Linked DNA regions of Homo sapiens: region 2 is linked to region 1. The links come from fine-mapping of genetic effects on gene expression. A gene starts in region 1. The other region holds a variant in brackets. All regions are shown on one strand. Distances are between the middles of the regions.

Region 1 (16,270 bases):
GTGTGTGTGTGTGTGTGTGTATGTATATATATATAGAGAGAGAGAGAGCTGGAATTGCAGGCGCCCACCACCACACCCAGCTAATTTTTGTATTTTTAGTAAAGACAGGGTTTCACTGTCTTGGCCAGGCTGGCCTCGAACTCCTGACCTCATGATCAACCCGCCTCAGCCTCCCAAAGTGCTGGGATTACAGGCATGAGCCACCGTGCCCAGCCTATTTATTTATTTACAAAATTATGGAGGCTAAGACCTATAGTAAACAAGCTGGAGACCAAGGAGAGCTGATAGTATCTTTTCAGTCTGAAAGTCACTAGGCTCTACACCTAAGAAGAGCTGATATTTCAGTTCAAGTCCAAAGGCAAGAAAAGATGAATATCCCAGCTCAAGGAACTTAGGGAGGAGGAGTTCCCTCTTATTCATCAGTGGGTCAAGTTTTGTTCTATTTGGGCCCTCATCTGATTGAATGAGGGCCAACCACACTGAGGGCAATCTGCTTTACTCACTCTGCCAATTCAAGTATCAATCTCATCCAAAACATTCTCACAGAGGAAAGTAGAGCAAGATGGTGGAATAGGACTCTCCAGCAATTTTCCCACAGAGAAATATGAATTTGAACAACTATCTATGTATAAAATACCTTCACGAGAGCTAAGGAAACCAGGTGAGAGATTATAGCACCTGGTTATAGCATAATAATAAGAAAAGACACATTTAAGTAGGTAGGAAGAACAGTTTTACATTACCCATGTCACCCTTCCCCCAAGACCAGGCAGCACAGCCCGGAAAAAGATATTGTCTGCTTGGGAGGAAGAGAGGAAAGTAAAGGTAAGACTTTGCCTTGGACCCCAATACCAGGCCTGTCACAGTAAAACTCAGCACTGGGTAGACCCCCCCATGACCCATGACTTCAGGCCAGTAACTGCAGACTGAGACTCTAGACCCATCCCGGCAGCAGATGGGAAACCATAGCCCCTGTGAGACAAACTTGAGTTCCAGCCCACATCACCATCAGCCAACTACAGTGGTCTTGGGATCCAAATAACCCACAGCAACAGGCAGGCCCCCTCAGTGGCTGCAAGCTTCAGATGTACCCCAGTGCTGCAGTAGCCTCAGCAGCTGTGGGCTTTGGGTGCACCCAAGTGCTGCACCAGCCTCAGCAGCCACAGGATTCCATCCCAGTGCTAAGTCAGCTTCAGTGACTACGGGATTTCAGCGTGGCACTGTGCTGGTCACAGTAGGGAGTACATAGCACTCCCTAGAGCTGGAAGGGCTGCAGTGGTCACAGGCTCGGAGACCACACCAAATGACCTGCCTAGAATCTCTGGACAGGCTTACTGTTAGAGGATGTTCCCAGACAAAGCCAGATTGTGAGGGCTGGAATAAGTAACTGCTTCTTGAATGCACACACACTGACACATGACCACAAGAACAATCGGGGAATCATGACATCACTAAACAGACAAAATAAGATGCCAGTCATAGACCCTAAAGACACAGATATATCAACTATCTGCCAAGGAATTCAAAACAGCTGTTTTAAAGAAGCTCAAAGAACTTCAGAAAATACAGAGAAACAAGTCAACAAAATTAGGAAAATAATAAATGGTCAGATGAGAAATTTACCAGATAAATTGAAATAATAAAATCAGACCAATTTTGGAGCTGAAAAATACAATGAATGTAAAAATGTAATAGAGAGCATCAAGAGCAGGATTGATCAATCAGAAAAAGAATCTGTAAACTTGAAGACAGGTTATATGAAAATATACAGAGGAGAAGAAAGGAAAAAGAGTGGAAAGGAATAAAGAAACTTTATAGGGTTTATGGGATAGTATCAAAAGAGCAAATACGCAAATTACCAGCATTCAAGAGGGAGTAGAGAAAGATAAGGGTGTAAAAGGCTTATTTAAAGCAGTAATAGCAGAAAACTTCCCAAACCTGGAGAAATATATAAATAGCCAGGTACAGGAAGGTCAAAGATTTGCAATTAGATTCAATCCAAATAAGACTATCACAAGACATATTATAATCAAACTCTACAGATCTAAGACAAAGACAGGATCCTAAAAGCAGCAAGACAAAAAAAGCAAGTAACATATACGGCAGTTCCAATATGCCTAGCAGCAGATTTCTCAACAGAAATCTTACAGGCCAGGGAAGAGTGGTATGATATAGTCAAAGTGCTAAAGGAAAAAAAAGACTGTCAATCAAGAATACTGTACTCAGCAAAACTGTCATTCAGAAATGAACATGAGATAAAGACTTTCCTAGTCACACAAAATCTGAGGGAGTTCATCACCACCAGACCTGTCTTACAAGAAATGCTAAAGGGTGTTCTTCAAGCTGAAAGGACACTAATGATAAACACAGAAACATCTGAAAGTATAAAACTCCCTGGCAAAAATACGTACATAGCTAAATTTAATTTATAATACTCTGATACTGTAATGGTAGCATTTAAATACTGTAATGAGGGTGTGTAAATCACGTATCTTTAGTAGGGCTAAAAGATAAAAGTATTAAAATTAATAACTACAGCAACTTGTTGATGGATATGCAATATAAAAATACTTAAATTGTGAAATTGAAAGCACAAAATATTGAGGAAAGGAAGTGGAGTTAAAGTGTAGTTTGCATGTGTATGTGTAAATAATCAAAGTTAACTTGTTATCAGTCTAAAATAACCTGTAATATCTATGTTTTTTGAAGCAAAAACCGACAATAGATACACTAAAAATAAAAATCAGCCAGGCGAAGTGGCTCATGCCTGTAATCCCAGCACTTTGGGAGGCTGAGGCAGGCGGATCATGAGGCCAGGAGTTTAAGACCAGCCTGGCCAACATGGCAAAACCCCGTCTCTACTAAAAATACAAAAATTAGCCAGGCATGGTGGCGGGCACCTGTAATTCCAGCTACTTGGGAGGCTGAGGCAGGAGAATCGCTTGAACCCGGGAGGCGGAGGTTGCAGTGAGCCGAGATCATGCCATTGCACTCCAGCCTGGGCAACAAGAGCAAGACTCCATCTCAAAAAATAAAAATAAAAAAATAAAAATCAAGCAATCAAAAACACCACCACAGACACATTTATAATGTTTAAACAAGTATCTGGGTATCCCATGGCCCAGTCAAATTGACACATGAAATTACCCATCACACCACCTATATTCTGGGCTCTGGCTGTACAAAATGAACAGTTTCTGTCCTCGTGGGGCTTACATCCTATTGAGGGGATCACACTATTTTTTTATTTTTCCCACAGACAAGTGTACACCTGAGAGGTTTTTTTTTTCTTGAGGCGGCATCTCACTCTGTCACCCAGGCTGGAGTATAATAGGGTAATCTCGGCTCACTGCAACCTCCGCCTCTGGGGTTCAAGCGATTCTCCTGCCTCAGCCTCCTGAGTAGCTGGGATTACAGGCATGTGCCACCATGCCCGGCTAATTTTTGTATTTTTAGTAGAGACAGGGTTTCACCATGTTGGTCAGCCTGATCTTGAACTCCTGACCTCAGGTGATCCACCCGCTTCGGCCTCCCAAAGTGTTGGGATTACAGGCACAAGCCACTGCACCCGGCCCACATAGGTAATTTCTAATAGTGCTAGGTGCTAATATCGTAGACCAAAGAAAGAGAAGAGGTGTATGAAGGGAGGCATGGGTGGGCAGAAATGTTGAACTTTATAGTGAAAGTGAAGAGGATTTAAAAGTCTTTCAGCTCAAGAGTGAAATTACAGTTATGCTATAGGAAGAGTAAATTGATATCAAGGTGCAGGGTGACACATAGAAGAGAGGCACTAGAGGCAGAGAAATTATCTGGGAAGCAAGCAAATATAGGATTTAGGCAAGATGAAGGAAATGAATAAAAGAGAAAAAAGAGGGGAATGTAATAGTATTAGGAGTTGAGGCCTTTGGGAAGTGATTAGATCATGAGGATGGAGCCCTTAAAAATAGGATGAGTGCCCCTATAAAAATGAGACTCCAGAGAACTTTCTTGCCCCTTTCCACTATTTGAGGACACAAACCAAATTTGCAGTCCTCAACCCAGAATAGGGCTCTTACAGAATTTGACCATGCTGGCACACTGATCTCAAACCCCCATCCTCAGGAATTGTGAGAAATAAATTTCTATAGTTTATTAGCTAAGTAGTTTTATGATATTTTTGTTATAGCAGCCTGTACTAAGATGGGAAGAAACTATTTATTGAGTATCTGTTATGTGTTATACATACTCTTAGGAGTTTTCACTTATATGAACTAAGAAGTGTCAGAATGGGTGAAAAAACTATAAGAAAGATATTACAACAAAGTTGAATTTGTTGAAGACTTCACAGCTGATTTTGTGTTTATGTGTGTATATAAATACAACAGCATAATCATTTGTGCTTGGGTAGGTAAGGATGAAAAAGAGAGAGGTCTAAAAAGGTCTATGGTTTCAAATATGAGTAACTGCTAAGGTAATAGTGGTATTATTAGAAAAAATGGATAACACAGGCTGGGTACAGTAGCTCATGCCTGTAATCCCAGCACTTTGAGAGGCCGAGGCGGGCGGATCACGAGGTCAGAAGATCGAGACCATCCTGGCTAACACGGTGAAACCCCGTCTCTACTAAAAATACAAAAAATTATCCAGGTGTGGTGGCGGGCGCCAGTAGTCCCAGCTACTCGGGAGGCTGAGACAAGAGAATCGCTTGAACCCAGGAGGCAGAGGTTGCAGTAAGCCGAGATCACACCACTGCACTCCAGCCTGGGCAACAGAGCGAAATTCCATCTTGGAAAAAAAAAAAAAAAAAGGATAACACAAAGAGAAAGAATGAGTGGGGAAAATGATGAGTTATATTTTTGACAAAAGTCAGGAATCCAAGCAAAACTGCTCAGTAAGTAGTAAGAAATATAGGGCTAGAGGTAAAAAGGGAAGCTATGCCAAAAGATATATAGACAGTGATTATCTGCACAGAAATGGTACCTGAAGCAATGAGATTTACTTTGGTTACTAATGGAGAGATTGAAGATAAAGAAGAAGACATATTCTAATAAATTCCTCACTTGAGGAATATCTAGAGCTGTGCTGTCCAATATGGTAGTCATTAGCCACATGATACTACTTAAATCAATTAAATAATGAAAACTGTAGTCTTTGTCACACTACATTTCAAGTGCTCAATAGCCACATGTGGCTAGTGGCTACCATATTGGACATCATAAATATAAATCATTTCCAGCATCATAGAAAGCTGTGATGGACAGCACTGATCTAGAGTTTGGTCAGAGCGTAGAAGAACCAGAAGACTCTATTCTCCTGAAGCCAAGGAAAAGAACATTTCAAGGAGAGAATAATCAGTGGTATCAAGTAAAAGTGGGTGACAGCCAACCTCCCCCACCCACAAAAAAACCACAATGAATTTTATGACTTCTAAAGCACTTTCAGCCTAATTATAAAGTTGTAAACTAGATTACAACAGATTTTGGATGAAATGGGTGCCAAATAAGTAACAGATGTAGACAATTCTTTTCAGTAATTTTTCAGTAAGGAAAAACAGAATGAAAACATCAGACAGCTGAAAGAGAATAGAGCTGTTCTATATGTACATGCTTAATATAAGCAGATTTGTGCACTGGCTGGAAGGTTTGGACACCAGTCAACCAGCTATTTACCAACTCTAGCAATCTGAAAGGCCTTTCATGTAGCAATGACAATTGAAGGGACAGAATTACATCATTTTAAAACAATAAGGAGCCTTAAAAATAATCTAATCCACCCCTCCTCACATTATAAAGAAAGCAGAGTTGCCCATGGTCACACACACAACTCAGTGGTATTAAAATTTAGAATAAGAATTCAGGTCAGCTGGGCATGGTGGCTTATGCCTGTATTCCCAGCACTTTGGGAGGCCGAGGCAGGTAGATCACCTGAGGTCAGGAGTTCAAGACCAGCTTGGCCAATATACAAAAAATTAGCCTGGCATGGTAGCAGCCGCCTATAATCCCAGCTACTGGGACGCTGAGGGAGGAGAATTGCTTGAAGCCTGCAGGCAGAGGCTGCAGTGAGCCAAGATGGCGCCATTGCACTCCAGCCTGGGCAACAAGAGCGAAACTCCATCTCAAAAAAAAAAAAAACTCAGGTCTTCCACAACCTAGTCCATTAGACTATCTCATTTAACTGCCTCCTAAGATACAGATCAAAGGTGAAGAAAGCTTCTTCAGTTGAGTTCCACTAATCTACCAAGAAAAAGATAATGTCTATGTTCACATATACAGAACTTTAATTTTTTAGAAATGAAAGGCAGTATTTTACTTCTTTACTTTAAAATTTAGAAAAACTGAGAACTAATCATCAAATATCTATTGCTTTGTAACAAACATCAAAAGAACTTTAAATATTCTCTAATTAAATCTTTACTATAGCCTGAGAGGTAGATGTTTTCACCATTTCACAGATTAGAAAAACATGCATCAGATCAGTAAGGTCCCAAAGCCAGTAAGCGACACTCTATTTGGCTCTACAGTACCATCAATTAGGAAATGGAGGAGAAAATGAGAGAATAGCATAGGCTAGAGAATGGAAATGAGATGTTTATCAAAGTATAAAAGTAACCAGAACAGATTCGTTTACTAATGCCAACCTTAAAAATAAAGCCAAACAAAATCAGGCCTTTAGATAAATATTAATCCAAAAAATGTTTCAAGAAAATAACACCGATTCCCTTTGGAGAGGGGAACTGTGCAGCTGAGGACAGGGACTGAAGGAAGACTTTTCACAGTAAACTCTGTAACTTTTGGAGTTTAACCGTAACAGTGTATTGCTTACTCCAATAAATAAGAAAAAGGTTTAAAAAAAAAACTTCAAATATGTTTTAGTTCCTATCAAGTTTGTAATTGTTAGCACTCTACAATCCTCCAAGAGGCCACAGCAAAACTGAAATTTCAGAAAAAAAAAAAAATCCTAACTTGTGTTCTGAAAAAGGCAAGGCAGAGCTTATATTAAGGGGCAGAAAATTTGCCTTTGGGGATTGGGGGATCAGGAGGGGAGAAAAGCCTATTGCCTGCAACGATCAACTCAATTCCACTGCTATTTTTAGCCCATTTTTTTAGTCTGTTGCTAAGAAACCCTATTGCCTGAAGGCAATTTACTAATAGGAACTTACATGAAGCAGGAGAAACCGGTGATCCTGAAATTCTTTCCAATTAGGCCATTCTATTTTAATCAGTCCATTCTGGTGCCACTTGATAAAATATCTCCTTTCAATCTTTATGTAGCTCTACTGTGATGTTGTTGCACTTAACAGCAAAACAATCATTTATGAAATCTTAATGTAAGGCTTCTGCAAACCAGTATACCAGAAATGGAGAACCATAGTTCTGGACTCTGATTTTTCTATTAATAGTTGTCTTCATGAAAATACCGTGTATTCCAAACAATACCTTGCAAGGTAATTTTATATTTTAAGAGATCTGGTGCAGAGCATCGGAAAAAGAGTTGATAAAGCTATTATAGATAAAAAGCTGTGAACTGAAATTACGATTTGGGAATGAGACGAGAAGAGGGCTGAGACTGCTACTGCAAAACAACCCGGGGGGCGTGCGGATCAGAGCGAGATGTGGGCTGACGCAGAAATCAGCTCAAGATACAAATACGCCAAGAAAGGCTCGAAGCCGGCGGGAACCCTGACGCTTCGCATTTCTACCAACTCAGTTTAAGAAACCCCTAACAACGCAGATGTCATCGCTTCGTTAATTGGTGCCGACGATGAGCCACAGCGACCACGCTCAAACCGTTTCGACTGCAGCCAACCTAGATGTGCCATTTCCACCTAGTCTTCTGCCATCGCTATCTCCCCTATAACCTCAAATTCGTCCAAACTAAAATCTCGCTATGTTAGTGATAAGAAGTTCAGTGATGCAGCAGCCTTCTTCAGCGGTGAGCTCTTTCCTCACACATCTTTAAAAGTCCTTCTAATCCGTTGGTTTCTCGGGCACGCGGGCAGAAAACCGTGCTAACGGCCACAGAGGTTCAAGAGGTGCCAACGTGGCTATAACTGGAAAACTGGATCCGAAATCGACCAGTAAACTGGGTAGCTCGGTCTACGCCCCGCCCACCACCCTTGCTAGCCAATAGCCTTCACAACTCTTCTGCCACTCCCGCCCATTCCAGTGCTGTGCCGCTGCTTTTTCTTCCACTCGGATCTCTTGAGCGCCCTTAGCCCGCTGTATACGCGCCCCTCCTCGGCTTCAGTAGGCAAGAGGGCCATCTGCCCTTCTTTCCTGAAGGTAGAGGGGACAACACCAGCTACGACGGGGACTCCAGAAGTCCATCTCCCGAACAGCAGCGGGGCGAAAAGAAAGAAAAAGGGTTTCCGAAGACTCCTACTCACACCCACGCTTTCCCTTAACCCGGAAGTGATTTCCGCCCCTCCTCTCCCTCTTCGGTTGATACTGGAGGAGAAGGACGGCCAGGTCTGGCCCGGCATGCCCTGGGCTTCCGGTGACCTCTGGCCCTTTTCTGTCGTCCGCTCTCTCTGCCTAGCGTGCTCGCTCGCTCATTGCTTTCCTTCCCTCCCTCGGTCTTCCTTCGCACGCTGTTTGGTGATTGTGGCGCTCGCGACAGACAGGGAGGCGGTGGCAGAGGACACTTGTCATGGCCGCCTCTAAACCTGTGGAGGCAGCGGTGGTCGCAGCCGCTGTACCGAGCTCCGGGAGTGGGGTGGGCGGCGGCGGGACTGCGGGCCCGGGCACGGGGGGGCTGCCGCGATGGCAGCTGGCTCTGGCGGTCGGGGCACCCCTGCTGCTGGGCGCGGGTGCCATATACCTGTGGAGTCGGCAGCAACGGCGCCGGGAGGCCAGAGGCCGGGGCGACGCCAGCGGCCTGAAGCGCAACAGCGAACGGAAGACCCCGGAGGGCAGGGCCAGTCCGGCCCCGGGCAGCGGACACCCTGAAGGTCCCGGTGCTCACTTGGACATGGTGAGAAGCAGCCCCAGGCCGTAGAGGAGGAAACTGGCTCGTGCAGCTTTTCCTTGGCGGGTTGTGTCAGTGAGGGGGCTTCCCATCAGACGGAAGCTGCCAAGCGGCAGCACAACACTTGGGTTTAGGGAGACTCATTTCTGGCTGCCAGTGGAGGGCATAGAGTAGCTCGATGACAGGTTACTGGCATTCTTTGACAGTTTGCTTTTGGTTTCAGAAAAATCCTTTGCTTTTCTTCTCAGTGACACAGCATTTATCCCTAGTGTTGTAGATGGGAGTGGGGCATTTGCAAATGTGATGATTGTATTTAATAAGTGAAGGAAGCTAAATTCGATTAACAATTGGTACATCGTGATACGAACTGTTTCTGTGATTTCCAAAGCCTACAACCTAATCGCTAAGAGCCTTTTAATAATGAGCCACTCCCCCTTTTGGAGTGTGTTTTTGCTGGGGGTAAGTGGGCAACTACAGTGACGGTTAGTTGACAAAAGCAAAACAAAAACAAAAACGATTAGATGGCTTTCTACATAGAAAAAGAAAGACTACACAGGTTCTAAAGAGTGAAATGGTGTTCAGTGGCATTTGTTTTACAGCCTCTGAACTGTAAGCAGAACTGTCAAGCTCCCAAGGCTCGTCCTCTCTCAGCAACCCCGAAGCCCCCTTGGCTGCAAGCACTCAGCGCCCGTAACCTCTCCTGCCATGCCCCAGCCCCAAGGTGTCCTTTTGCACTCCGGACCCCTTGGCCTTTGTCAGAAAACGCTCTGCACTGCACTGTCCCCTCTTGCTGCACAAGAGTAGCGGCCACAGCAATGCTCACCAGGCTTGGTTGCACACAGCCCCCTGCCCCAGGTCCAGGCCTACACACACATACAAAAAAAAAAAAAAAAAAAATGGGAGTGACTTCTTAAACTTTTTGATTGGAAGCATCTTAAATTCAGTTTTTCCATTTCACCTGGAAATGTACATGACCAAGCCTAATATGCATGATACAGTTTCTCTGATGTGAGGCCAAGCATTGGATTATTTAGTGAACTGCTTTGTATGGTTTTGGTGAACTGACTGTTAAATCCTTTTGGTATCTGACAGCTGTGCAGAGAATTAGTCTGGCTGCATTTGACAATACTGGGATTGGGTGTGGTGGATTTTCTCTGGGTCTGGAGTTGTTCAATGGTAGTACCAGAGTAAGTCGAGGTCAGAGAAACGTTTGGTCAAATATCTCCCAGTTTTATACATAAGTATATACAGTTGGTCAAGTAACTTCTAATTGTATCCAAGTGTATACACTTAAATATGTATGCAAGTCATTTCCATATTATACTATTCAGGTTGAATTTTTTTTTTTTTTTTGAGATGGAGTCTCACTTTGTTGCCCAGGCTGGAGTGCAGTGGTGCGATCTCAGCTCACCACCACCTCCGCCTCCTGGGTTCAAGCAGTTCTGCCTCAGCCTCCGGAATAGCTGGGACTACAGGCGCGCGCCACCATGCCCCGCTAATTTTTGTATTTTTAGTAGAGACGGGGTTTCACTGTGTTGGCCAGGCTGGTCTTGAACTCCTGACCTCAGGTGATCTGCCCATCTTGGCCTCCCAAAGTGCTGGGATTACAGGCGTGAGCCACCGCGCCCGGGCGAAGATATTTTTACTAGGATGTCAAATTAGCTTTAAAGGAAGTTTTGGTGTAGGAATGAACAAACTAGTATCTGCAGTGTGTGAGGCATTGTGCTAGGCCATGAGAAAGCCATATGATCTTTCCTATGGGAGAGTGAAGCATTACCTATTTTCTAAAAGGTTTATGACTGGATAGTAGAAGAACTTATGGACTGTGTTAGAACTAGGATTTGTAAGCTTTATAGTGGGCTCTCCAGCATTGTCACTTTGGGAAAGTCATTTTGTCTCCTTGACCTTAGCGTCATCCCTGTAGAATAAGAGGATTAAAATATTAGATCTCTTCTGTTTCTTTCAGTACTAAAAATTGATGATTCTCATTATGATCATTTATAATAGCTCACTGCTGCTATTAAAAGTAGTTATCAAGAGGATTATTTGAATTAATTATCACTTGTCTTACATCAATTTTGGATGTCTGAAATTCTCCAGTCATTTTCTATTTCGTTTGTTAATTTAGTTTTAATCATGGAAGAATAGTAGGTAAAATAAAAGATCCAAAAAGTTCTCAGTTCTGTAAACATTAAAAATAAAGATAGTTTCTATACATGAAACTAAATTTTTTTTTTTTTTTTTTTTTGAGACAGCGTCTAACCCTGTCACCCAGGCTGGAGTGCAGTGGCACGATCTTGGCTCACTGCAACCTCTGCCTCCTGAGTTCAAGCAGTTCTCCTGCCTCAGCCTCCTGAGTAGCTGGGATTACAGGCATGCGCCACCATGCCTGGCTAATTTTTGTATTTTTAGTAGAGACAAGGTTTTGCCTGGTTGGCCAGGCTGGTCTCAAACCCCTGACCTCAGGTGATCCACCCACCTCGGCCTCCCAAAGTGCTAGGAATTACAGGCACGAGCCACCTCACCGGCTGAAACTAGATTTTAACATTTCATTGTGGTTTCAGCCACCCCACCTCATCCCAGGGGATCTGTACCATTGGTATTTGATAAAACCTAGCCATCTCCTTTTCACATTTTAGATGTCCTAATTCCTCTTTTCCACGTTGTCTGGATCAACACTGATGATTTTTTAATTTCATGATATTTCAGAGTTTTTTAGTTTTACAAATAACTTTTTTTTTTTGATACGGAGTCTCACTCTGTCACCCAGGCTGGAGTGCAATGGCGAGGTCTCGGCTCACTGCAACCTCTGCCTCCTGGGCTCAAGAGATTGTCCTGCCTCAGCCTCCCAAGTAGCTGGGATTACAGGCACGCACCACCACGCCTGGCTAATTTTTGTATTTTTAGTAGAGACAGGGTTTCACCATGTTCGCCAGGCTGGTCTCAAACTCCTGACCTCGTGATTCACCCGCCTTGGCCTCCCAAAGTGCTGGGATTACAGGCATGAGCCACTGCCCCTGACCACAAATAACTTTTTATTCACCTGACTGCTGTTAAAAATTAGAATTTAAGATTGGACTCTTTGTGTAACTTAAACTGCTTTAAAATGATTTATTTTTGGCCCCAAATAAAATAAGGCAAAACATTTGCACTTACCATTGTCCATCTTGTGGAATATGTAGGCCTACACCTGTAATCTTTGAATTACTAGATTGTTCTTTGGTAAAGCAACAATAGGAAGGTCTTTGTGATTTTTTTAAACTGGAAATTTATATCTTAACTGTTGGTGACCAGTAAATATTGAAAGACTACTTTTGTCTTCTTTTAATAGTCTGGTCCTTAGAGTTATTATTAGACTATCTAAATGTAATTAATTGATCAGTAATTGTAATTTCTTATCTGTGGTTGGATAAACTGCTGTACATTTGAATAGCACCTCTAAATTGGCATCCTCGGTGGATTTCGCAACCAGAAGCATTTGCTTTCACTGATGGAAACCTGGCAGAATCCTGATGCCCTAACTGTCCTTTCTCCACCTGAGCAATAGCTACAGTTTTTAAAGGAATGAATAAATAGACAAATATTGTCTGTTTAGGGTTTGATATCAGAAAATAGAATGGAAAATCTGTATTTTTGTCTTTTGGCTTATGTTTACCTTAATGTAAAATGATCTGATAGAATTACTGGACTTCTGTCTATTGGGTTGGAGATTTTCCTTTACAATTAGTGTGCACAATTACCTTTTTTCTGGGATAGCAAAAACTTGTAAAGGAAGTGCAAAGGATATTCATAGTTGTTTTAATTAATGGGAATATTGGGGTATCACTGAAGAAAAGCATTTAGTCACAGTTGATAGTGTCTAAGACTGAGGTGCTTAAAGTATTAGATCATATTCCATTTTGAACTATTATAAAATCTACCATGATGTGCCATTTTGCTTCAGTAATTTTTTTAAACTTGAAGAATTAAAAAAAAATTTTAAATTGCAAGGCTTTTTAGAAGATCATATTATCCATAGTGCTTCTCAATCTGTGGGCTTGAGTCATCACGAGGGACCACCACACATATATTCCAAGCATGGTATCCTGGCTGTACCAATGTCCCAGATACTTCTTTTTCAAACATCCTGTGATTTTCTAGAAAAATGCACTTATTTAAAAGCATTATTGACTTCATTGTAACTTTTTTGTCCAATTGTTATTTAATCTGATGATAAAAAATGCATCATTCTTGTGTTCATATTTAGCATTAAATATGTTTAGCCCATGAAATGAGTTTAGCCCACATGAAATGGTTAGGAACCAATAATCTAAGCCAGCCTACTACAGTAGGAAAGGGAAGATGTACCTACACATTTTAGTAAAGGGTCGAGGACTGCATAAACTGTTGTTATTGGTCATCTTGTTTGAAATGAAGTCATTCTCTCCCCCAAATGATCTGTTTTGAGTCATTTTTAAAAAATCAATCAGGGACACCAATGACATTCCCTCTAAGCTTAGTTAACACTTTTCAATCTTAATCCTTGGCAGTATTTCATATTGTGCTCTAAATGTCATAACTTTTCCTGCTGCTTCTGAGGTACTCCATTTTCCTGATTTAAAAAAAAAAAAAAAAAAACCTGATACCAGCCTCATGGATTCTTAGTCTCCTTATCACAATACAGAGGTCATTTCATCTTTTCTGAAACTTCTCTCTACCTAAGCACACCACTATGTGATTTTATAACACCCTGGACTTTTCCATTTTATAGCACTTACCACGTGGTACTAGAATTGCTTATTGCTGTTTCCTGCTATGCTCTTGAATCTGTGAAGGCTGAGACTGGCTCTATCTTGTTCACCATTGTATTGCCAGAACCTAATACAGGTGCATAGCAAGTGTTGAATGAATGAAGTTTCATTTTTTGACTAATAATTAAGGGTTCCTTTGACATCCCTAAGTTTATATTTTATATATGTGTGTGTGTATGTATATATAAATTTCACAAGTGGTATATTTTTCAAATTTTCCAGCTCTTCATTTTTGTTCTACCAGTTAATGCTGGATTCCGTGGAAATCTTTTTTCCTTTCTCTTTTTTTTTTTTTTTTTGAGTTGGAGTCGCGCTCTGTCACCCAGGCTGGAGTGCAGTGGTGCAATCTCTGCTCACCGCAACATCCGCCTCCTGGGTTCAAGTGATTCTCCTCCCTCAGCCTCCTGAGTAGCTCGCCACCATGCCTGGTGAATTTTTTGTTTGTTTGTTTTGGGTTTTTTTGTTTGTTTTTTGAGATGGAGTCTCACTCTGTTGCCCAGGCTGGAGTGTAGTGGCGCAATCTCGGCTTACTGCAACCTCTGCCTCCCGGGTTCAACCGATTCTCCTGCCTCAGCCTCCCGAGTAGCTGGGATTACAGGCGAGTGCCACCACACCCTGCTAATTTTTTGTATTTTTAGTAGAGACAGAGTTTCACCATGTTAGCCAGGATGGTCTCAATCTCCTGACCTCATGCTCTGCCTGCCTCGGCCTCCCAAAGTGCTAGGATTACAGGCGTGAGCCACCGCGCCTGGCCGTAAATCTTAAACCTCATTTGGGCATACTTTTTGTAAATCAGTTGATTATGCATGACCTACAATCATAATCCTGCAGAAGCAGTCATTATAAAAGTATATTCTTCCTAGGTAAAGAGTTATTATGATTTAGTAGGTGGGGTTGGTTGTCATTTTTAAAATTTCCAGACGTGAAATGGGAAAGGACTTTTTTATTATCTTAGGTTTTATTCCTTATTAGGTTTGAATCCTTATTATCTTAGGTATTATTATCCTAGGTTTGATTCATATGAAAGTAACAATTGGTTGGCCAGGTACAGTGGCTCACACCTGTAATCCCAGCGCTTTGGGAAGCTGAGGCAGGTGGATCACCTGAGGGCAGGAGTTCAAGACTGGCCTGGCCAACATGGTGAAACCCCATCTCTACAAAAATACAAAAATTAGCCGGGCATGATGGTGGGTTTCTGTAATCCCAGCTACTCAGGAGACTGAGGGGAGAGGATCACTTGAACCCGGGAGGTGGAGGTTGCAATGAGCTGAGATCCTGCCATTGCACTCCAGCCTGGGTGACAGAGCAAAACTCTGTCTCAAAAAAAGAAAGAAAGTAAGTAAGTAACAATTGGTCAATAAGTATTGAAACATTGTTTCTCATACAGTAAGTGTTCCAGAGTTATTTAGGTTGCAGTGAGTGGACATCGTGCCCCCCTGGGCGACAGAGCAAAACTCTATCTCAAAAAAAAAAAAAGAAAAAGTAACAGTTGGTCAATAAGTATTGAAACATTGTTTCTCATACAGTAAGTGTTCCAGAGTTATTTGCTACTTCTATAAAGCTGTGATTCAAGTATAATATATGCTTTTTGAGTTTGAGAAATTTAAAACAATAAAACCATTTTAAGAGAAACATCAAACCATCTCAGGTATATTTTAACTGGGTATAAGTGTGTCATCATGGTGACAAATTAATACCCATTTTATTTTCTCACACGCAGATTAATGTACCTAATTCTAGCTCATTTTCTTTTACAGTGACTATACGTGATCATCAGGTTAATATTTTATAAATGCTGAGAATTTATAATAGTTTTCTTATTGCCAGATGTATATCATTGACAGCTTTTTGCAATGTAGTCATGTAATCGTGTTGCAGGACTTGTTTTTAGAGGCTGGTGCATTTCTGATCTCCTGAGGTTCTATATGTGGGCTAATCCTTTTAGGGTTATTTTTCCTTCCTGGAGTACTTTCCTGTCTTTTGTTAGTCATTTTTATTTCAGAGCGGATTCTCATGAGTAGCCTTCACTGACTATCCTAAGCAAAACCTGATTTTCTTACTTTGTATTCCACTAGATTTACCTGGATTGTACCTTAATATTGTAGCTTTCATTTCAAAATGTAACCTGTTTTCTAGAGTAGATTTCATGTCATTAAGAGCTGAGGGGTATGTTCCTAGGTTCTGCCTCGTTTGACAAGTCTCAGTACACTGAAGAGAGAAAAGATATATTTATTATTTTTTATTTCAATATCTTTTGTGGTACAAGTGGTTTTTGGTCACATGGATGAATTGTATAGTGGTAAAGTCTGAGATTTTAGTGCACTCATCACCCAAGTGTACATTGTACCCAATATGTAGTTTTTTTTTAATCACTTACATGCTCTGCCACCCCCCTCCTCTGAGTCTCCATAGTCCGTTATGTCACTCTGTATGCTTTTGTGTACCTGCAGTTTAGCTCCCACTTATAAGTGAGAACATATGGTATTTGGTTTCCCATTTCTGAGTTACTTCACTTAGGATATTGGCCTCCAAAT
Region 2 (16,270 bases), 35 kb after region 1:
AGTTCTTTCTAATGGAGAATTTTACCTAATAGGGTCATGTGTCCTGCCAGGGAAGTGCATTATTAGGCGATTTTGTTGTGTGGACATCATAGAGTGTACTTCTACAGACCTAGATGGTATAGCCTACTACACACCTAAGCTGTATGTTGTAGCCTGTTGCTCCTAAGCTACAAACGTGTATAGCATGTTACTATACCAAATATTATAGGCAGTTATAACACAATGGTAAGTATCTGTGTGTCTAAAACATATCTAAACATAGAAAAGGTACAGTAAAAATGCAGTATTACAATCTTTTGGGACCACTGTTGTATATGTGGTCTGTTGATTGAAATGTAAATATGCATGACTGTATTTCTTTCAGAAGGGTGTTAAGTGTTGAGATAACCTCTTAAAATTCTTGACATTTTGATCTTTACTGGTAGTGTCTGAAGATTAATTTGAAAGGTAATTATCTGATGTCTAACCTGCTTTGATATTAGAATGTACAGGATGTTTAGTTTTCTAGAAGAAGGGGTTTCTTGCTTAATAGTGATCAGAATTGCAGGGCAGAAATGGTTGGCTTGTAGTCCTTTCTATAAGTTGGATACCATTTTTATGTTTTGGAATCTTGCCTTTTAAATTTCAAGATTTTTAAATCACTGTTTCTAGAAAGTAATTATATATTGAATTACTACTACATGCTCAGCATTATGCTGAGGTGTAATAATAGAGATGAGACACTGAACATACTTAACTGGACTAGTTGAATTACATTTATTTACGTATTTTTTTCTTAGCTGAAAATACTCCTTGATCAAGTTGAAGAAGCAGTGGCAGATTTTGATGAATGTATTAGGTTAAGACCTGAGTCTGCTCTGGCACAAGCACAGAAATGTTTTGCATTGGTAGGTACTACTTTCTTTTGTATTTTCCTAAACATCACTTTTATTTTCCAGCGTCAACAAAAATGAGTATCTCATTGTCTACAAAGTCGTCTTTTTCTTTCTTTCCCAAAGGATAACTACTGAGGAAAAAAGGTGCTGATTGATACCTAGCTCTTGTATTTCTCTGGACATTTGTTTGGGTTCATCTTGATAGATGTTTGTCCCTGATTTTATACTTCCCTAAACAGAACTGGTCTCCCTGCTTCATCATAAATCAATATAAAGAGCAAAAACATTTTGAGGAAACACTCTGTAAACATGACACCATGTAACTTGCTCTCTCACCCCTGCTTCATAGAACTGTTTCTTAATATTCAGAAACACAAAGCTCAAAAGGTTGTTTTTTTTTTTTTTTTAAGTAAAAATTTTTCTAGTAAAATAAGATACTTCCAGTTAGCTGTATGGCTGGAGTCGTAAAAGAATTTTCAGTTTAAAGGAAGAAATTATGTCACAAATATATATTATAAATGAAAATGACAAAAATTTTACTAGATTTAAAATTCATTTATTGCAAAGTTCACTTCTTACAAATTAGTATGCCCTCTTCTACAGTATTGAACATCTTGAAATTGTATAGTGGCCATGGAGTCCTAGTTGTACATAACCTTTGGCTCTCTGCTGCTGAGATACCTACTTGGAACCCTTTTGGATGCTGCAGATTATGTTAGCAAATCACCTGTTTTTTTGGAAATATTTATGTAATTTTGTGTGTTTATGTTAACATTCCATGAGTTTTTGAGTTCTTGATTTGACAGGCCTGTTTTGATTTTTTATAGTACCGCCAGGCATATACGGGAAACAACTCTTCACAAATCCAAGCAGCTATGAAAGGTTTTGAAGAGGTCATAAAGAAATTTCCAAGGTGTGCCGAAGGCTATGCACTATACGCCCAGGTAAATGTTTTTTCAGGTTTTTTAAAAATAACTGCATACATATGCCAAATCTCAGTATGGAAATCAGAAAACAGTGCTATCATGGTTGCAGCTTCTTTGGAAGCAGGTGGCTTTGTTCCTGATTGATTCTCATGGCCCCTGGTTGGTCCCGAATCACCTCAGAAGAGGCTCCTTTGTTACACAATTTGGAAATCATGGCCCTAAACTCAATATGGGGAAGCTTAAGGCGAGAATTTCCCTCCTGTCTTCATTTGGATTGGTTTTGCAAAAAGTAATTACCTTAGGAAAATTTACCGTATGCAATTGGTGGAGAAAATATCCACGGAAAGGCTTTTCTTTCTATCTGGTCACTGCCTTTTTATATGGCTAGGTTGTTGTAACGGTTTATTTTAATTTATCTTTGCTTTATCTAAAATTCCTGAAACTCTCTTGGTTTAGGATTGAAGCTATGGAAAGCAGGATTTAAATCTGAATTTTTTTATTGTAGTCTGAAATTCTTGAAAACTTCTTAGTTTTAAATCATCCATTTAAATGAAAATGATTAGCTTCTTGTAGTGACGGTCATACATTTTCCCCTCAAATAAAAGATCTCTGAATGACTCAGTTTTCTTTCTTAAAGCTGAAAATTGGTTTTGGTGTCTACATAAACTAGCCATCTCAATACTCTATATCAGGGGTACAGCTGCTTTGTGGCCTCTTAGGAATGGGGCTGCACAGCAGGTGAGCCTTGGGCAAGCATCACCACCTGAGCTCCACCTCCTGTCACTGTCAAATCTGCAGCAGCATTAGATTCTCATGCCTGATGATCTGAGGTGGAACAGTTTCATCCCAAAACCATCCCTCCTCCTCCTACCCCCATCCATGCAAAAATTGTCTTCCACAAAACCAATCCGTGGTGCCAAAAGTGCTGGGAAGGTGTTGGGGACTGCTGCTCTATGTAATTTATTTTTCTTTTTTTTTCTCTTTTTAATTACAAAAGACATGTTGGGTTTTTCCCCACAGCACAGAAATAGGAAACGATAACAAATTACTATCCCCTGGCTGGGTGTGGTGGCTCCTGCCTGCAATCCCAGCACTTTGGGAGGCTGAGGCAGGCGGATCACTTGAGCCAGGAGTTTTGAGACTAGCCTGGCCAGCATGGAGAAACCCCATCTCTACTAAAAATACAAAAATTAGCTGGGTGTGGTTTGGCGCACACCTGTTATCCCAGCAACTCGGGAGGCTGAGGTAGGAGAATCGCTTGAACCCAGGAGGCGGAGGTTGCAGTGAGCTGAGATCACACTACCACACTCCAGCCTGGGCAAGAGTGAGACTCCATTTCCAAAAAAAAAAAAAAAAAAAAAAAATACCATCGCTGGTTGACCCCTCTCCTTAAACCATTCTTAAGGATGCTTATTTTGTTTTTAATTTCCTTCATGGTATCTGTAGGCAGGTTATAAGAACAATTTCACAAGGATTTTAAGGGTTTATTGAGGGTGGAACTATGAGAAAATTGATTTGTGTTGGATCTGTTCTTTAGAGGTAGGTCTTATATATAACTACATTAAAGTGTACATTTTAATCCTATGAATGGGTACACTTGAGTTTATGCCTTATAATTAGTAACAAACCAGGAAATGACAGCAACATCCTCATCATTGTCATGGAATTCAGAAGGGCTTTTTTGGTGCAGATTTCTCTAAGCATCTAGAAGAGCAAAGGCCACCGAATAGGAACCACTACTGGGGAACAACTCCTCTGCAGAACTTTCCCAATAGCATATTTCCCTATTACCATTCTGCCTTCAAGATAGGTTTGGTTTGTATGAGCTGTCTTCTCATCAGCATTAGCATTATTACAGTCAGTTTGCACTCAAATTTCTTTTCTTTGGTCTGTTTTCTAATTTTAGCTTCACTATATAGTATATGTAACTTTATATATGCATACAGTACGTGTGTGTGTATGTGTATGTGTATATATATATACTTAGTGTAACTTTTTTGGCCCTCAAAGCTTTGGCGTAGATGCTGGCCAACTCGCAAAGTTACAGCTTGAGCATAGTCTGATATCCACAGAACTGTGCCTTCCATTTCAGCCGTGGGATTTGTCTTAAAAAGTTGATTATAGCTGCTGCTTTTGTTTTCAAAATAAGTATTTATTACATTATTGTTAACTATGACAAACAATTGGGGAAAATCCTAAATGTTAACAGAAAATTGAATTATGTTTGCAGAATTGTGGTACACTCACTTAATGGTATATTATGCAGCCATTAAAAGTTACAAATACATTAAAGTTACAAAGCAAGATACAGCACTGCCTATTATTAAAGGGAGAATTGCATACAAAATGAACTCAACCATGTGAAAGAAAACAAATAGGGAAGTAAATAGAGATAGAAAAATATATCAGGAAGGCATCCATGCTCACAATGATGGAAGCTATAAAAATATTTCTACTTTCTATATCTTTCTGATTTTTATTATAAAGAAGATGTGCTGGCTACATTTCTTTGATATTTTTAAGAGCGATTTTTAAAATATTTAAGTTGGCTTATTTTAGATATGAAAAGACTAAGAGCCATACAGCTAAATATAATGACTCACATACTTCTTAAAAGTCATCTTATAAATAACCGGGGTTAACTGAATATGGGCTAGGTATTATAGATAATATTAGGGAATTATTTTTGGAGATATATTAGTTGAAGCAGTTATAGCTGCTTTTTAAAAAATCAATAATTTTAAACAAATAGCTCTGAAGACATTTAACACATACATCTTAACTTATACTTCCAAATGAATATTGCCCTTAAGATAATTCCCTGGCCAGGTGCGGTGGCTCACTCCTGTAATCCTAGAACTTTGGGAGGCCGAGGTGGGTGGATCACCTGAGGTCAGGAGTTCGAGACCAACCTGGCCAACATGGTGAAACCCCATCTCTACTAAAAATACAAAAATTAGCCAGGCAAGGTGTTGGGCGCCTGTAGTCCCAGCTACTCAGGAGGCTGAGGCAGGGGGATCACTTGAACCCAAGAGGCGGAGGTTGCAGAAAACAGAGATTGCGCCACTACACCCCAGCCTGGGTGACAAGAATGAAACTCTATCTCAAAAAAAAAAAAAAAAAAATTCCCTTGGGCTGTATTATGATAAATTATGAATAAGTGATGTGACTGTACCTATGAGAATGTGATATTAGAGCTGTGACTAAGAATGGGATTATCTGTATTGAACAGTTTACCAGAGATTATCTGCTGTGGCATATAACTAACCACTTGCTGAAGAAAGAGGATAGTTAAGATTTCATATTTATAGCAGTGCCACCTAAAAACTCCGATAATTAAGATGTAAAATGTAAATCAGTCTGTATCCCCAAAACGTGATAATTTTGTAATAATGAATGAAGTAAATTTTTATAATGAATAATAAGTATACTTTTAACTGCTTAGGTTGACGGTTACCTTAATATAACTGAAGTATCTCCTCACATAGGCATTAACAGATCAACAACAGTTTGGTAAAGCTGATGAAATGTATGATAAATGTATTGATTTGGAACCAGATAATGCTACAACATATGTTCATAAAGGGTATGTATTTTTGTGATTGTTCCAATGAGATAATAAATTTCTTGCATAGTAATAAAATGTATTTATTTTGGCCACTGAGGAAGGGGACTGTGGTAGAGAAGTTAATTGACAAACTTCTTAATGCTCCTAGATGTCTTTTCATTCTTACAGAAATTAGTTAAGGAGGCCAGGCGCAGTGGCTTACACGTAATCCTAGTACTTTGGGAGGCCGAGGCAGGCAGATCATCTGAGGTTGGGAGTTCGAAACCCTCCTGACCAACATGGTGAAACCCGGTGTCTACTAAAACTACAAAAAATTAGCCAGGTGTGGTGGCACATGCCCGATTCCCAGCTACTCAGCAGGCTAAGGAGTGAGAATCACTTGAACCTGGGAGGCAGAGGTTGCAGTGAGCCAAGATTGCACCACTGCTCTCCAGCCTGGGCGGCAGAGTGAGGCTCTGTCCCAAAAAAAACAAAAAGAAAGAAATTAATGTACTATTCTTGCTCTGTGTTAAGGGTTTTAATTTCAAACTGAACATCCTGTCAGCTGTTGGCTTATATCCAAATACGAAGCATACACAAGTGTTCGTGTCCTTGCGTACTTGAATTATCCTAAGAAACTTCACTTAAATTTATATAAAGTGAAAAATAAGGGATGCAAGATTGGTAATAGAGCCTAGACCATTGAACACTTTTTGTAATAAGGAACTTAGACTAGCAAACCAATATAAGCTGAGAAAAAAAACACAATTTGATGCTGATTATATATTGCCTTATAAGTTATAAGTTAACTTATAAGTTCATTGAAGGCAGAAATTGAGTCATATTAATGTGTGTGTATTCCTACTGATACTGGGCCATGGTCACATCTGACATTTTTTTGCATTTGCAGTTTACTTCAACTTCAGTGGAAGCAAGATCTGGATAGAGGTTTGGAACTTATCAGCAAGGCTATTGAAATTGACAATAAATGTGATTTTGCCTATGAAACCATGGGAACTATTGAAGTACAAAGGTAACTTCTGGAGTCTGTTAGGAAATATATGGTAGCTCCATAGATATTTAGCTTTTTGTTCTTATTACGTACATGTTAAAGTCTGTTATGTTCTTTCCTCTTTTCACCTGTATTATTCACGTTGGAAAAAAAAATGTGCTAAGGCAGTGACATAAGGATTGGTAGCCAAGTTGCCAGAAAATCTGGACCCTCCTCCAAAGAAGCATCCAGCCAAATGGCTGGGCAAGTTGCAACATCAACTCAGAGCCCCTGAATTTTCTTTAAAATCAGAGTTGGATAAGAACATTTTTTGCAGCTCTGTCCTTAACCTCTTATTTTGTGTAAGTGTTTATCCAGAGTTGCTCTTAAGATCCACCATTAAAAGGTGACAGCTGTTTTATATATGGGATTTATTGTATACCATCTTAATA[C/T]TGGTATTGCCATTCATTTGAGTTTCCTACTTTAGGCCAAGTATTAAACTTTAGATGTTTCCTAAGTACTATTTCAATTAATCTTCATCCCCATCTTTATAAAGGTGGAGATTATATGATCCCTAATTTAACTGATGCCCAGAGGGCTTAGGTTTACAAGGTTGCACAGTAAGCCAATAGAGAAGACAGGGTTTGAGCTCATATATCACTGATACCACAGTCACTGATCTTGGCATTATCACTTGTCAGGAAGCAGCATGAGTTTTCTTAATTCCCTATCATTCAGCCCCTCCTGTAGTCCTCTCCCTGCTCTACAGTAGGCAGAATATATATAGGCTGGTAAAAAAAAAATTGTGTTTCTTTTAACCATTCTGTACCCACAGTGGCATGTAAATATTAAGTTTTTTTTTCTTCTTTTTATGAGACAGAGTCTCCAGCCCAGGCTGGAGTACAGTGGCACAATCTTGACTCTGCAACCTCTGCCTCCCAGGTTCAAGTGATTCTTGTACCTCAGCCACCCAAGTAGCTGGGACTACAGGCATGCACCACCATGCCCAGCTAACTTTTTGTATTTGTAGCAGAGATGGGCTTTTGCCATGTTGGCCAGGATGGTCTCAAACTCTCGGCCTCAAGTGATTTGCCCATCTCAGCCTCCTGAAGTGCTGGGATTACAGGTGTGAGCCACTGCACCCAGCCTAAATTATTTCTTAATTGCTAATTTGTTAATGTGAATAAAATATTCTTGTACTAGAATAGGATAGGGTGGTAGTTCTTAATCTTTTTTGAGCGAAGCTGTGGATTCTTCTTAGAATAATGCACACAAAAACACTTTGCTTTTAATTCAAGGCTTTCATAGATCCTGGGTTAACTAAAGACCTCTGATAGGGTTTGATGGAATTTTGTTCACGTTAATTGAACTTTGAAAAAATCCATTCTGAACCTTACAATTAAATAAGTGAATTTGAATAAATGAAATTGCAGATTATCCTAGGATTTTGCAGATCTGCTAGCTGTTGGCCTAATGCCAGAACATGAACTCTTGAAAAAAGTTTTTTTTAAAAATAAGCCTATCACGTTGCCATATATTATAATGGGGGATTAAATATAGTCACCCTAGTGGTACCTCTTACTGGCATATAAAGTCTAACTGGCACATATGCCAATAAAATGTACCTTACTAACATGTATGCCAGTTAGACTCTGTATATGCAGGTATATATATATATAGTAGGGACTTAATATTCTTTGTAGGATTGCATATATATGTAGCTAATACTAGTTACTTAAAACAGTTGGTTCTTAGATAGCTGTGGATTTGACCAGAATCAGGCAGAGGCAATAAATCTGAGTATTTATTGAGTAGGTGTGAGGAACTCACATAGACTGCCTGAAGAGTAGAGATGCATGGGGTTGGGGATGTGCTGGTAAGAGATGAAACAGAAAGAGGTGGGCCCACATCAGTCTGTGAAGGTAAGGCCCTTGCATGTCATTAGTGTCCCGGTATTATGTCACTGCTTTCTAAAGGAGTCTCATGTTAACAGTAGAAACATGTAAAATTTAGGAACCAGACGGAATTGTGATTTTAAATAAGCCAATCAATTTCCCTAGTCTGACTGTTCTTATCAGTAAACACAGAATACAAGGGATATAATGTAAGCACATAGTATTTGTAATAGTAGTTGACATTCATTGAGTGCTTTCAATGTGGTAGGTACTCTTGTTTATTTTAAAAGAAGCATTTTACTAGAATCATAGTAGAAACTTAGTGGTCAGACTTCATGTAGCATCACTTACAACCTTCATTGAATATTGTGAAGAAACTTAGTGGTCAGACTTCATGTACCATCACTTACAACCTTCATTGAATATTGTGAAGTGCTTGTTGAATCTGAGACTTAAAAATTTTGTTCTTTTAGAGGAAACATGGAGAAAGCCATTGACATGTTCAACAAAGCTATTAACCTGGCCAAATCGGAAATGGAGATGGCCCATCTGTATTCACTTTGCGATGCCGCCCATGCCCAGACAGAAGTTGCAAAGAAATACGGATTAAAACCACCAACATTATAAAACAGGGGGAAAGCAGACTGACCCTCTTTTTAAAAGTTTACCCCCTCTTCAACTGAACCCTAAAGACACTGTCATGAACTGTGTTGAATGGTGGAAATCAGTATTTCTGTTTGTGGTGTTGTTATTTGTTACATCTGTTTCATGTCTAGGTGTTGTGGGTGTGGCTGTTGAAGGAAGTTTGCAGTCTTGCAGCTTTTATTCCCTGTGCAACAAAAGATTAGAACATGTTAAAGGGATTTTTAAATAAAGTTGCAAAGAGTACAAATGATAATTGGCCATGCAAATAAAAACTGATTTGTTGATTTTTTTTTTAAGGGGGGTTGGCAGTTGATTATGTTCTGGATGATTCCGTCTATATATGTGTGAATAATGTAAGTATTTTACAGCATGTTGATTTTTAAATTAACGTAGTAAATGCTGTAAAATAGATTTATATTCAGTTAACCGCTTTCAGTTGATTTTTTGAAAGAAACAAAGGTTAAATGGGGGATTAAAGTAAAATTGAGAGACCCTTTAAACCATTGTCAGCATGCACAATGCCTCTGATTCTGCAGTTTTAGAAACTTGGTGGCACTTATTAATCCTCTTGGCCCCTTTCCACTCTAATGGATAGTGTACATTCTTCTTAAAGTCCACAACAGCAGATTTTCTTGCAGTAAATTATGCAGATGCAAAATATTCTAATTGATATATGTGTTGGAAGACTGAGTATTGATGGGGGAGTGGACCAGACAAAGAGGTAAGATGAAACAGTAGTGTGTTTATAATTGTCTGTGACTATTTTCTATAATAATTAGTACTATTTAATGGTGAGCTTTTAAAAATGTAGGATAGAGGGTACAGTGGCACTGTATATACTATTTATAGTCTCAGCTACTAGGGAGGCTGAGGCAAGAGGCTTGAGACCAGGAGCTCGAGGCTGTAATGTGCCATGATGATTGCACCTGCGAATAGCCACTGCACTCCAGCCTGGGCAATATAGCAAGACCCCATCCTTTAAAAAATTTTAGAACTTTTTTAAAATCAAAGTGCAGATTGCTTGTATGTAAAACCCAAATAAAGGTAGAGTAAGTGTGATATATGGGAGTATTAAAATAGCTTAAAATTTCTCGTGAAGGACATGTGGCTAAAGGGTCAAAAAGGATGTAAGACTTGGAGCCAGAGCATAGTATTTCCTGAAATAACAAGTTTAGTGCTTTAACTATGGCTACATGTGCTTAAGGAATTTTGAGCCACTTATTTTTGAAGATGCTGAGGACATGTAGAGTGCTTTTTGTAGTGAGCTAACCTTGATCTCTAAGGACTAACTACCCAGGTCCAGGTCTTCACTAGGGGTACTGACAGTGTTTAAGCTTTACTCCACCTCCTTACTTAGAAATCACTTTACGATTTATTTCCATTTTCCACTTTTATAGACCATCCTTTTGCTTATATGCTAGATTTTTCTGGTGAGGGAAGGGTTGTGTTCTTCAGGGGTCTTTTGTTTTGAAATACTCAGGATGGGGAGAGGTTTATTTAAGAACGAATTATAATTATGGTTTACACTGTTGGGAGTAAAGGAGCATTTTTACACCCCTTAAGGGTGCTTAATTCTGTTGAAACCAAAAAGATTTGTCTACAAATGCTATCTTTTTTAGAAACTATTAGAAATGACTCCCTTTCAAAGTCAATCTTTGGAAAATATTGAGGAGGTCACTAATTAGTTGGTGCAGTTAATATAATTCAAGATGATTTGGATGATGGGAAGTTTGAGACCGCTGCATTTTGTTTTTAAATTATGCACCTTCTGATAACCCCCAAATACAGAAATGTTCTACATCTCTGAATGACCTCTGACTTTAAAAAAGTTTTTATTTGCATGGCTGTATTTACATTAACACTGACATTTTCTTCTACTCTTCTCCCTTCTTTCATCTTGGGGTTGGGTAGAGAAACACAAAGGAAACTGAAGCATGTGCCATTCTATACTGTCATTCCAAATTCTCATGGACTATTGCCTGTTGTGAAAATGTTTGAAACTGCACTGAAAGCTGCATCTGTCTGTATCTTTCTTTTGTAAATGACCTCACATGTAAATTCACCAAATAAATATTACATTCAAGCTCTTCTATCTATTCTTTAAATAGAAAGATAGGTAGTTTAGGCTGGGCATGGTGGCTCACACCTGTAATCCCAGCACTTTAGCAGGCCGAGGCGGGCAGATCACGAGGTCAGGAGATCGAGACCATCCTGGCTAACACGGTGAAATCCGTCTCTACTAAAAATACAAAAAAGTAGCCGGGTGTGGTGGTGGGCGCCTGTGGTCCCAGCTACTTGGGAGGCTGAGGCAGAAGAATCATTTGAACCCGGGAGGCGGAGGTTGCAGTGAACCTGCTGAGATCACGCCACTGCACTCCAGCCTGGGCAACAGAGCAAGACTCCGTCTCAAAAAAAAAAAAAAGGTAGTTTATTCATTTATTATGCTATTGCGTAAATTCACAGTGAATCTCTTGTGAACTCAAAATAACTTTGAAAATAGGAACATACAGGAAATGTTAGCATATGAAGCAAAGTAAGTTTGTTGGTATGAATGGTGGAGTTTCTTGAGAGCATCCACCCCTCCTACTGTGAAACAAGGCTCCACGGAGAGCTGGTAGAGCCAACTTATTTCATTCTTTGCCTCTACCTTACCCATACATGCACAGCAGCCTGGAAGCTTGCCAATCAGACATGGACCCTGTGGATAAGTTTATTTTGAATCTGGTTTCACCAGTGAGATTGATCATAGTTCTCAACCACGTGGAGTCTCTCAGAAAGCATACCTGAAATAATCATCCTCGAAAATTGTGGTATAAGTAGAGAATACATCCCAAAACAATAAAAAGCAACTTTGGCTGTAAAACAGTTCAGACAGAACTTTCTGCCCTCTGGGAACTCAAATTGTAGTTTAAATAGTAGTTTGTACCTGTAGAAGTCAACTAATTGTTATAAGACTATAACAGGAGGACAATATAGCCAAACCAGGAAACTTAGGAGTATAGAATAACAATTACCCAAGACTGTCCTGTATGGAATTTGTATTTATAAGGAAATAACTTAGGAGTTGTTGTGGGGATACGGGTTATAATTAGTCCTATTCCCATCCTCTGCTAAATTGATTTGTGAACAAAGTGACAAAATTTTAATTTACTTGCAAGCTTTACCACACTGATAGGATGAGTAATGATTCCCCAAAAGACAGCCACATCCTTATCCCTGCAACCTGTGAATGTTACTTTAGTTGGCAAAAAATGGGCTTTGCAGATGTAGTGAAGGGTCTTGAGAAGGGGAGATTATCCTAGATGATCTGGTGACCTTAAAATGCAGTCACAAATGTCTATGTAAGAGGAAGGTTTTAGACAGAAGAGGAGATGGCAGTGTTGCCACAGAGGCAGAGACTGGAGGTGATGTGGCCACAAGCCAAAGAATGTTGGCAACTACCAGAAACTGGAAAAGGCAAGAAACGGATCCTGCCCTAGAGCAGAGTGCCAACACCTTCATTTTGGCCCCATGAATTTGGACTCCAGAAGTAAAAGAGAATAACTTTGTTTTTTTTCAGCCACTAAATTTGTGATGATAGTTTATTACATCAGCCATAGTAACAAATATTCCTTTGGCTATTGTGTACAAGCAGATAAATGGTTTAAAGGAATGCCTTTGAGTATGCTAAAGTAGAATGACTTCATATACACACAAATTTTGGCCAAAGATGGTTTAGGCAGTGAATGTACACCCATGCCACAGACTGGAGTTTTCATCAACAAGTGGGGGTATTTGTGATTTAAAATATGAATGATTGCACTATAACTATCAGACCAAAAAGCTGCCCTTCAGGTATAAAGTAAAAATTGAGATCCCTCTGCCAATATTCTACAAGAGACATCAGAAAGAAGGCACTGTTTTCAGACTCTTAGCATGAAAATAACTAGTCTGGTTTACTTCAAGGTGATAGTGCACAAATCATATTAGGAGTTGACAGCTATAGATCCTTCTCAAAGGTCTTCATGCTGGAGGGCCTGCTGATCACTGGGATAGAAGTAGCTGTGGTACCTGGCCAAGGGGAGGAAGCTGAACATGGTGTATGCTTGGGGTCAAGATGATTGCTGCCTTTCAGAGCTCAGGATACATGGCTCAAATTTCTCCATTTCTTTTGTTGGTGCTTAAAGATAACCTGTGCAAGTGTTGTCCTGGAAGGCTATGAAACAGCTTACCTAGAGCAAATACAGGAAGACCATGACTAACATTGGCTCTTGGGCATTGTTTTAGAGGGCGAAAGGTTTAAAGCAAGAATGCAGCATGGTAGGATTCTCTGCAGAGATGATCCATGGCCTAAATTATGAACTGCTATATTAAATAACTTTTACCTGATTTTATTTCTCAATATTGCTCTGTGTCAAGAGCTGTAAAAGGTCTAAGATGTTACCCTTCTTGAAAACTAGTTTTCTGAATGCTGGCAGAAGACATGAGACTCCTGGGTCAGACAACAGACTTAATTATTTAGAACATAGCAAGCAACATGAGTTTGAGCCACAGATCCCATGGGAGTGACACAGGGCAAGCTAGGTGGATACTGCACATGCAGTGGGTTTGCGTCACAGCCCAAATCTAATGAGGTCACAAGCAAACTGGCCTGACTTTCGCATTAGAGGGAAACACTATTTTGACTGTATCAGATAGTAAACAAACCTGTCCTATGATCCAGAGGAAGATAGTCTCTACCTTCCAAAGCTGTCATTATATGAACATTCTCGATTGGATAGTTTGGAACAAAACACCAATGCCTCTACTCACAAAATGTATGGAGAACTGACTCCCCATCTCTATGTGTTCTTTTATGCATCTCAAGCTTAGTTTTTCAGCAGTGTAGAGCTTTACAGTGTCTGCCTTAGACAACAGCATGATGCAGGGAGAAATTACTGGCCTGAGCATCAGGTGACCTTAGCTCTAAATCAATACTGCATTTTTTTTTTGATACAGTTTAACTCTGTTGCCCAGGAGTACAGTGGTGTGATCTTGGCTCACTGTAACCTCCTCCTGCCTTACCCTCCCGAGTAGCTGGGATCACAGGCATGTGCCACCACACCCGGCTAATTTTTGTATTTTTAGTAGAGATGGGGTTTTGCCATGTTGGCCAGGCTGGTCTTGAACTCCTGACCTTAAGTGATCTGCCCATCTTGGCCTCCCAAAGTGCTGGGATTACAGGCGTGAGCCACCATACCCGGCCTCTGAATTAACACTGCTTTCACTGCTTTCTAATGGAGCTAAGATCTTAAGTAAATGAATATTCAGCTCTACAGCATATGAAGTTACATCACGTCCCAGGCTCTTCCCAGATCAGACTCCCTTAAGGTAAGGAAATCATTCCAGAATTATTTGGCCAGAACACTTGGTGAGAGAGCAAGTGCAACCTGTAGGAATAAATTCATTCCAACTCAACATTTACTAAGCACTCATGATGGTGAGGGTTAGCCATAAAAAGATGAACATAGAGGAGCTCAAAAACTGAGTTTTGGTGGGCTGGATAGTAAATGAACCTGTCATATGCTTCAGAGGAAGGTAGTCTCTAAAACAGAAGTACAATGTAGTGCCATGGAAACAAGAGTAATAAATTGTGCTAAGCATTAAGGAATAAACAGGATTTAGGTAAGGAGCTTCCAGAATGTGGGGAAACAACCACAACAAATCTAAATAAAGGCACAGCATGAGTGTGAGCTGAAAATGAGGCATTCAAGGTAGAGTCCAGCAAAGTGAAGTGGTTGTTTTTAAACGAGTGGGGAAAAGCCAACAGGAGAGCTATGTGAATGAGAATTATCGGCATATATTGAAGACCATGCATGTAGCTGAGATTCCTCAGGACAAAATAAAATGTAAAGGAGCTAAAATAAAACTATTAATATAAGGGCCTTTAACATCTAAGGGACAATGTTAAGTGGTGAGAGAGGCAGTATGAGCAAGGTCACACCAATGGTGTTGAGAGAGGCCACATGGACAGGTCTACAAATCGGTCTTTAGTAATCTGCCAGAAGAGTGTCACTGGACAGATGAGGGCAGAATCTGCCTGCCGGGGTCTGAAAAGCAATTGAAAGAAACTAAGAAATTGGGTGAAAAAAAATCAGGAAGAGTACTTTACAGGATGGCGTGCTCTTTGTTCTGAGGGAGAAACTTTGAGAATGAATCTACAGACAAAAGACTTAAAGCCTAGTTAGCACAACGGGATATACTTGGAGGATTCAATATGCTTCAGGAAGAGCTAGGATGACAACATTTGGAATTACTGGACCCTGCCCACCATGTTCTGTTCTTGCAGATTCTTGTTCATTTGATTATGAATCAGCTGTGAAGTAAATCATTGAACAAGAAGCACTGTCTTTGTATGTATGTGTTTTAGTTATTTGTACATCAGGGGCTTAACTTTTTAATTGGTGATTTTAACAAGACCATTTTATCCTAAAGTGCTTTCTATTCCAACAGCTGGCTTTTTCTTAGTCTCCGAACTTCATTCACAAGTAGAAATGAATGAAGATAATAATTTGATAGGAAATGTGAAACTGTCACACACAGGTGGTTATGAGGCATAAGGAAGAGCCCCTGTTTAGCCTGCAGCACACACATCATTTCCCTTTCTATCCCTCCTGGCTTCATTGTACCCACGCACCACCAAAACTTACACAGCAATGCCTAAAAAGTAGCACAAAAGACTTAAAACCAGTGCCAATAGAGCAGAACATTTATCTTGAAACCTAAACTCTTGTCTAAACTTTTTTCCACTTGGTGTACTTTGCACAGACCTAACTTTTGGTATCAGGAAGGAGTCCTTCCCTAAATACCCAGTCGATGTCACAATCTACTCCTTGGTCATTTAAAACCCCATAATGTTACTTATTTATTCATTTGCAACCAGTGCAACACTTATTATCTGTTAGCTCTCAGCTTCAAACAGCTAGGTCAAAGTCAAGTAGAACTTTCACCACAAACTGCACATCCTGACCTATTTCAACAGAGGTCGTCATCCCTGTGAGGAATTCACTTAAATGTGAATTCATTAAATGTGTTGCCTTACCTAAACTGCAAGAGATAGAGGTTCACAACTTGTGATAGCAGACTTCAAAGTATTATGCAAAAACAAAAAACAAAAATAAAACATCATTGTCTAATTCATTAGAAAGTCGGGGAGTACAGGGGTATGGCAGTTAAAACTTACCCAAGGCCTCAACTGCAATGTTCTTCCACTCCAAGTGGGAATCTAGTGTTCATTTTATTCGGATATCACTTTGCAAAAAGGTAAAATCCAGGGCCAGGTTACCACACATTTTCTGAGAATAAAATGCTACATACTAATTATAGGAGATGCCTACTTCAGTTGTTTCTTTTCATATTTTTCAAGAGTACCA

What was found. PIP is the estimated chance that this variant, and not a neighbour inherited with it, causes the effect.
Region 2: its variant is fine-mapped to the expression of LNP1 in unexposed skin (GTEx, PIP above 0.99). The same link has a PIP of 0.9 or more in adrenal gland and whole blood.

Annotation. Positions count from the first base shown.
Region 1 is chr3:100,393,308-100,409,577 of GRCh38, reverse strand. It overlaps LNP1 (leukemia NUP98 fusion partner 1), which reads right to left and starts at 8,039. Exons shown (of 4, transcript NM_001085451.2): 1 at 7,139-8,039. It overlaps TOMM70 (translocase of outer mitochondrial membrane 70), which reads left to right and starts at 8,489. Exons shown (of 12, transcript NM_014820.5): 1 at 8,489-8,952. The coding sequence starts at 8,629. RefSeq lists enhancers at 562-1,087, 8,161-8,250, 8,261-8,310, 8,361-8,470, 9,152-10,071 and 1 more and silencers at 8,021-8,100, 8,711-8,790.
Region 2 is chr3:100,358,155-100,374,424 of GRCh38, reverse strand. It overlaps TOMM70 (translocase of outer mitochondrial membrane 70), which reads left to right. Exons shown (of 12, transcript NM_014820.5): 8 at 780-887; 9 at 1,703-1,819; 10 at 5,290-5,387; 11 at 6,259-6,381; 12 at 8,708-10,994. The coding sequence ends at 8,861. NIT2 (nitrilase family member 2) reads right to left here. Exons shown (of 10, transcript NM_020202.5): 10 at 12,790-16,270. Among named protein-coding and RNA genes, the nearest start is that of NIT2, 32 kb to the right of the region's middle. The variant C/T (reference allele first, on the strand shown) is at 6,792.